Linked DNA regions of Homo sapiens. The protein of the gene in region 1 purifies or fractionates together with the protein of each later gene. This does not show direct contact. Each region holds a gene or a part of one and is shown in the gene's direction. Other genes may lie near its edges.

The links. Proteins that work in one complex are often made in the same cells at the same time.
Region 2: the proteins of RCL1 (region 1) and CCNT1 purify together in Homo sapiens (affinity purification with mass spectrometry; one large-scale study listed by BioGRID and IntAct). This does not show direct contact.

What each region holds. Positions count from the first base shown.
Region 1 is NC_000009.12:4,830,744-4,834,592, forward strand, and holds part of RCL1 (RNA 3'-terminal phosphate cyclase-like protein), read left to right. Parts: intron 1-2,410; coding exon 2,411-2,485; intron 2,486-3,397; coding exon 3,398-3,522; intron 3,523-3,849. UniProt on the Homo sapiens protein: As part of the small subunit (SSU) processome, it plays a role in 40S-ribosomal-subunit biogenesis in the early pre-rRNA processing steps at sites A0, A1 and A2 that are required for proper maturation of the 18S RNA.
Region 2 is NC_000012.12:48,699,708-48,703,207, reverse strand, and holds part of CCNT1 (cyclin-T1), read left to right. Parts: intron 1-2,134; coding exon 2,135-2,195; intron 2,196-3,367; coding exon 3,368-3,430; intron 3,431-3,500. UniProt on the Homo sapiens protein: Regulatory subunit of the cyclin-dependent kinase pair (CDK9/cyclin-T1) complex, also called positive transcription elongation factor B (P-TEFb), which facilitates the transition from abortive to productive elongation by phosphorylating the CTD (C-terminal domain) of the large subunit of RNA polymerase II (RNA Pol II).

The sequences.
Region 1 (3,849 bases):
AGGTGGGTGTTTCAGACAAGGTAACTGGAGAGCAGGTTTCTTCCTCTCTTTTTTCTTTTTTTAGCATAGATTGATTACATTTTTACCTTTTGATTGATTGACTGCGCTGTAATGGTAATACCTTTGCCCTGAGCTGCCACTTAGGGTTTGATCTTTGCCTTTTCTCTCTGACCGCAGAGTGGACCGATCACTTTCCCTTAAGCAGAACTTACAGGCCACCATCACTCTGCTAAAACTAGAATGTGCAAAGCTGCAGGAGACTGGAGAGTGTTCGGCCCAGCCTCTCATTTTACGAAGGAGGAAACTGAGGCCCAGGAGACAGGGAATTGTCTAGGGTCTAACAGCCAGTGAGAGGCAGAGTAGGTCCCAAGCCCTCATCTGCTTTTCCTGCCCTTGTCCCACCGCACCAAGTTGCCTGTCTTCCATGTCATATGGAGAGTGATAAAGGGACAGGACTACACCTGGAATTACCCTTGGGCTTCTTGCTGAACTAAGTAAATTTGGCTTCACTCTTTGTGACTCAAGGTATAGGAAGGATGAGCCAGAAGGAATGCTGTGTTTTTTCACCTTTTTTTCCCTCGAGAGAGCCGGTGGCTGCCCAGAGTAACTGCAGCATTGCATCCCCTACTTTTTCAGAATCTGACTTGGCCTTCTCCCCAGCTGCTCTTAAGCCTCGACTGTATTCTTCTTTATCTGGCAACGCCAAATGCATATATTAAGTTTTTGAGTGTGCTTTATTTTTTTATTTTTAGAGAGAGGGTCTCACTCTGTCTCCCAGGCTGGAGTGCAGTGGCATGATCGTGGCTCACCAAAGCCTTGAAGTCCTGGGCTCAAGTGATCCTCCCACCTCAGCCTCTCAAGTAGCTAGGACCACAGGCGTGCAGCATGCCCAGCTTATTTTTTTTTAGTAGAGATGAGGTCTCACTATGTTGCTCGGGCTGTAGCTTTAATATTTAAAATTAGCTAATCTTCAGTGGTTTTCCTAGTTTCCCCTGCCCCACCTGATCCATTCTAAGCATGTTCTTAGGCCTCACAGGTCATTCCTAAGTCTGGTATTTTTCTGATATCACAATATTTAGTTGGGGCTTCTTAGCCTGTTAGAGTTAGTTGTAACTTGGAGATGGCTGGGCTTGAGCCCCTTGCCTTAGAGATAAGGAAATTCAGATAGTTGTGATTTTCTTGTCTGAGGCAACATAGCTAATTAGAAGCAGAGCTGGGACCAGGACTAGGGCTTTTCCTATGCCTTCTGTGTGGTGCCTGCCCTCCCTGCCAGCTGACAGATCCAAGAAGGGAACAAGTAATGGAGTAATTTTCTTTCCCATGTAGCAGTTGAGGCAACATTTGCCAACTCGTTAGATAACAGTACCTGATTTGAATGCCATCTTTCTACTCTTATCAGGAATCCACAAATGGATCAGAAAGACCCCAGACTTCCTGGGAGCTCTGAATGCAGGAGGAGATAACAGTTACACGTGGCAAAGTCTTGCCATTAACTATGGATGTTGTAACTAATTGTAGTTTTGAGTTTGTGCTGCTTCCTGTAGTTTGAGGCTGTCATCACCCCGACTCCCCAACTCCCATGTAAAATCATCACCTTCCCTTTAGCTGCCTGTGTGGTGCTCATCATTGGCATTCTTAGGTGAGCTGTTGAATAGTTAATTTGGTTTGCTTTGACTCGGAATGCTACCGGCTCTAAACATTAAATAACCCTACTGGACAAATGTTAATGAAAAAGATGATTTTCTTCTGTACGTTTATACCTATAAGAATGAGTAGGGTTCTCCAGGCTGGGTGTGGTGGCTCACACCTGTTATCCCAGCACTTTGGGAGGCTGAGGTGGCAGATTACAAGTTCAAGAGATTGAGACCATCCTGGCCAACATGGTGAAACCCCGTCTCTACTAAAAATACAAAAATTAGCTGGGCGTGGTGGCACATGCCTGTAGTCCCAGCTACTCAGGAGGCTGAGGCAGGAGAATCGCTTGAACCTGGGAGGCAGAGGTTGCAGTGAGCCTAGATCGCGCCACTGCACTCCAGCCTGGTGACAGAGCGAGATTCCACTCAAAAAAAAAAAAAAAAAAAAAAAAAGTAGGGTTCTCCATTTGTTTTCTACAACAGTCCAGTCTCTCCATGCTTTTTGCATGATGCCTCTGATGCACACGATGACTTTAAGGTAGGTGTTGGTCTCCATGTCATGAATGAGGAAAGTGCGGCTCAGAGAAGCCCAGTGGCCTGTGAAATCACAGTGTTCCTCAGGCAGAGCCAGCCCACTCGCTCAGTTATATGCCAGCATCCTTTCTGTTTACCACACTGCATCATCTACCTGGTTGCTAAGCCTTACTTGTTTTTTTTGACTCTTGTATTCTGCTGAAGGCTTAATTAAACTTTTCTTTTCTGAAATAATTTCATAGGTTGATGTTCTTAAGGCAACAGCACTCCCTTTGTTGAAACAATTTGGGATTGATGGTGAATCATTTGAACTGAAGGTAAGAATGTTTGAACTGTTGACCATATGTTCCTGTGGAAAACATTTTCCCACTGACTCATTGGAAGAGCTGTGTGACTCAGTGTATGTGTGTCACATTTGAAGTCACCAGTTATCAGAAGACTCACAGGGCTCATGAAATAAACACTACAGACTTTGAACTGAAAGGGACCCTTTAGTAATAACAATAGTAGCTGACAGTGATGTTGCACTTCTTTTGCGGTGGGGGCCGTTCTAAGCAGTTTACAAATACTAACTCCTTTTCTCCTCACAACAGCTCCGCCCATGTGCCTCAGCTAGCAAGCAGTGGAGAATAGATTTGGGCCATATTGGCTCTCTGATCTAAATGATCTGGATATAATTTATGTTCAGGGGCTCCCAACCTGGATGTCCCTGAGAATTTTCAGTATTTCCAAAATCTAGTAGAAGTAGTTTAAGCATCTGTATTTTGTTGAATTATATCAATCCAATGTGGTAAACCGTTTAGCATCTCTGCCTTTTACATTCATGTTTTAAACAGGGGAAATGACTTCATTTTTATTTAATAATGTTTTGGTAGATCCGTTATTTGCATGGGAGGAGAAAAAGGGGTTTCTGATTATTAAGAAATGGGCTCAGATGATGGACTAGGTCAGCTCTATATTTTAAGGATAAAGAAGTGACCTGTTCAGGGTTAAAGAGATGAGTGGCAGAGCCACTTGGGTAATCGACTTGGACTTTGACACATGCTGCACAGGTACTCTCTAGGAGCCAACATAAGGTGCTGTTGGTCTTGAAGGGAATGACAGATTGAATATGGAAGAGCTATGCCTTGTAAGGAAGCATCTGCTGGTGTAAACCTTCCTGGGCAGGGTGTCAGGGTAATCCATTGCTTTGCTGCATCCTCGCCTCATCTTTCTCACTCTCTGTGTAGATTGTGCGACGGGGAATGCCTCCCGGAGGAGGAGGCGAAGTGGTTTTCTCATGTCCTGTGAGGAAGGTCTTGAAGCCCATTCAACTCACAGATCCAGGAAAAATCAAACGTATTAGAGGAATGGCGTATCCTTTCCATTTATTTGGATTTCTTTTTTTTTTGTTGTTGTTGCCTCACTAAGATAAGAATGACTAACAGCTTTACTTCTTCCCGAGGTTATTTACATTTTAGACTACAACTTTGAAAAGTCTTAACAGTGAAATTGTAATTGCTGGCTGAGTTAGGATGTTCTGTTATCTGCCTCACCATGACTAGATTGATTGAGTCATTCTTTTTTTTTTTTTTTTTTTAATTTTCCGGTTAACATTTAGGCAAATGGCTCTGATGTATGTGATCCTCTCTCAAGGGCTTTGGTTTGGGGGCCATGAATATACTGCAGTTCCTCCCTCAGA
Region 2 (3,500 bases), on another chromosome or scaffold:
CTCTTGACCTTGTGATCCGCCCGCCTTGGCCTCCCAAAGTGCTGGGATTACAGGTGTGAGCCACTGCACCCGGCCACCCTGAGCTTCTTTTCCTGCAACTAGATGGTCCCATCTACGGGTGATGGGAGACAGTGACAGATCATCAGGCATTAGATTCTCATAAAGAGCAGGTGATCATTTCACCTCAGCCTCCCAAGTTGCTAGGACTATAGCTGCGTGCCACCACTCCCAGTTAATTTTTATTTTTTTGTAGAGATAGGGGTCTTACCATGTTACCCAGGCTGGTCTTGAACTCTTGGCCTTCAAAGAATCCTCCCATACTGGCCTCCCAAAGTGTTAGAATTCCAGGTGTGAGCAACCATGCCTAGCTACATTTTTTTTTTCTTTTTTTGAGATGGAGTCTCGCTCTGTCACCCAGGCCGGAGTGCCGTGGTGCGATCTCAGCTCACTGCAACCTCCACCTCCCAGGTTCAAGAAATTCTCTGCCTCAGCCTCCTGAATAGCTGGGATTACTACCTGCATTCACTCTATGGAACAAGCCAAGGTTCACGCCCACCATCACACCCAGCTAATTTTTTAGTATTTTTAATAGAGACAGGGTTTCACCATATTGGCCAGGCTGATCTTGAACTCCTGACCTCGTGATACACCTGCTTTGGCCTCCCTAAGTGCTGGGATTACTGGCGTGAGCCACCGCACCCGGCCCATTCTTTATTTTTTAACTGTCTAAAAAATCCAGTGTATTTTATGGTTATAGCACGTTTCAATTTAGCTACATTTCAAGTGATGAATGGCTACATGTGGCTAGTGGCTATAGCTTTGGCTGGCACAAATCTGAGTGAATTTTCTTATTACCTTTTCCTTTGAACTCTTCTGTTACTTTTTAGAAACCTAACATGGCCCCAAAGGGGAAGTTCTAATAGGAGCCAAATGTTTGGTATTAAATGCTTACAGTACTGTAGGAAGGTTCTGCAAATGTATTTTGGTGATGTTGAAAAATATATACTTTATGGCCAGGCGCGGTGGCTCATGCCTGTAATCCTAGCAATTTGGGAGGCTGAGGCGGGTGGATCACCTGAGGTCAGGGGTTCAAGACCAGCTTTGCCAATATGGTGAAACCCCGTCTCTACTAAATATACAAAAACTAGCCGGGCGTGGTGGTGGGCTCCTGTAATCCCACCTACTCGGGAGGCTGAGGCAGGAGAATCGCTTGAACCTGGGAGGCAGAGGTTGCAGTGAGGCGAGGTCGCGCCACTGCACTCCAGCCTGAGCAGCAGAGCGAGACTCCCTCTCAAAAAAAAAGGCCGGGTGCGGTGGCTCACGCCTGTAATCCCAGCACTTTGGGAGGCCGAGGTGGGCGGATCATCTGAGGTTGGGGGTTTGAGACCAGCCTGACCAACATGGAGAAACCTCGTCTCTACTAAAAATACAAAATTAGCTGGGTGTGGTGGTGCATGCCTGTAATCCCAGCTACTCGGGAGGCTGAGGCAGGAGAATTGTTTGAACCGGGAGGCAGAGGTTGTGGTGAGCCGAGATTGTGCCATTGCACTCCAGCCTGGGCAACAAGAGCGAAACTCCAACTCAAAAAAAAAAGAAAAAAGAAAAGCAAAAAATACATACTTTTAATTTTCTTTTCTCTAAATCACATGAACCATAAAACTTAAATATTAACCTGAAAATGAACCAAATATATGGTGCTTTTTCTGTAGCCATATATAAACTGTTACCTCTCAGCATACTACTTATTTATTTATTTTTTAAAGAAAATGTGTACTGAATGGGCATAAGGGATAAAGATTGTATTTCACAAAAAAATTAGCCGGGCGTGGTGTTGCGCGCCTGGAATCTTAGCTACTTGGGAGGCTGAGGCAGGGGAATTGCTTGAACCAGGGAGGTGGAGGTTGCAGTGAGTCGAGATCACACCACTGCACTCCAGCCTGGGTGACAGAGGGAGACTCTGTCTAAAAAAAAAAAAAAAAAAAAAAAAAAAGATTGTATTTCAGTTCTTAACTCTACCTCCTAACTCCACTCATGCCTTTTATTGTTTTGGTTTCCCTGGAAGGGATTGTTAGAATTGTTTATACTTTATATATTGTGCCTTTGTAGGGAATAATTTCTGTCTTCTCACTTTTAGGCTTATTTGCAACAAGTTCAAGATCTGGTCATTTTAGAAAGCATAATTTTGCAGACTTTAGGTAAGTTTATTTTCCTTTGAAACATTTTTTTAAATTATGCAATAAAATGATTTGATTCTAAAAATTTGCTATATAGGAAGAATATTTCTTGGGAAAGTTTTTGTAGTGTCCCTCTGTTTCCAGATGATAGAGGTTGTAGACCTGAGTTTAGCTTTGACCTGTTCCATAGAGTGAATGCAGGTAGTACAGCTGACCTTTGAAACAGCAGCCAGTGGGTTATTATTTTTTTCATTCTAGGGTTATTTGCTTTTTAAGTTTTGGTGATTTTTACCCCCAAAAATTATAAAAACTATCTAAAGAATGTTTTTCCTTCCGTGGATTGTTATGGCCTGTAACAGCATTTGTTTTTAAAATTGGTAACTAGTGTTTAGAACAGCAGAGTGAAAGTGGGGGAACTTAAGCTTTAGTGGTTGCATGGGCAACTCTGATGATATTGTGTTATTATCTGTTATTTTCATCACACAGGCTGCCTTTAGAAGTTTAGAAAATATGAAAATACAGATTTTTTTTTTCCTGGTTCTTTTGGGCTATCATTTTTCTCTTCTAGGTAGGGTAAGATTTCATGAGTTGTACGTCAAAGTTATTGGCGTAGACACAATTTTTTTTGTACATATATATATATGATGAGTTCTTCAAAGTTTATCTCTCAATTTATTCTAGTTAACTTTTTTCTTTTTCTTTTTTTTTTTTTTTTGAGACGGAGTCTTGCTTTGTCGCCCAGGCTGGAGTGCAGTGGCACAATCTTGGCTCATTGCAACCTCCGCCTCCTGGGTGCACGCCATTCTCCTGCCTCAGCCTCCAGAGTAGCTGGGACTACAGGCGCCCGCCACCACGCCCAGCTAAATTTTTGTATTTTTAGTAGAGATAGGGTTTCACCGTGTTAGCCAGGATGGTCTTGATCTCCTGACCTTGTGATCCGCTCGCCTCGGCCTCCCAAAGTGCTGGGATTACAGGCTTGATCCACCGCGCCCAGCCTCTAGTTAACTTTTTTCTTAAAATATCTTCAAATTATATTTCATGGGACAATGATGTTTTTCTGGTGGAATAAATTTCTATTAATATTTTAGTGTGGAAACCAGTAAGGTGTAATTTACAATCAGTTATCCTTTTACAATAATTTGTAAAATGTAAACTTCTTAATAGTTTTTTAATCCATTACTTTTTCTTTTAAGGCTTTGAACTAACAATTGATCACCCACATACTCATGTAGTAAAGTGCACTCAACTTGTTCGAGGTAAGGAATCCCAGCTTATGAAGACTATCTCAAGCTGTTTTCCCATTTAGAGGTTGTGGTTTGTGGTGGA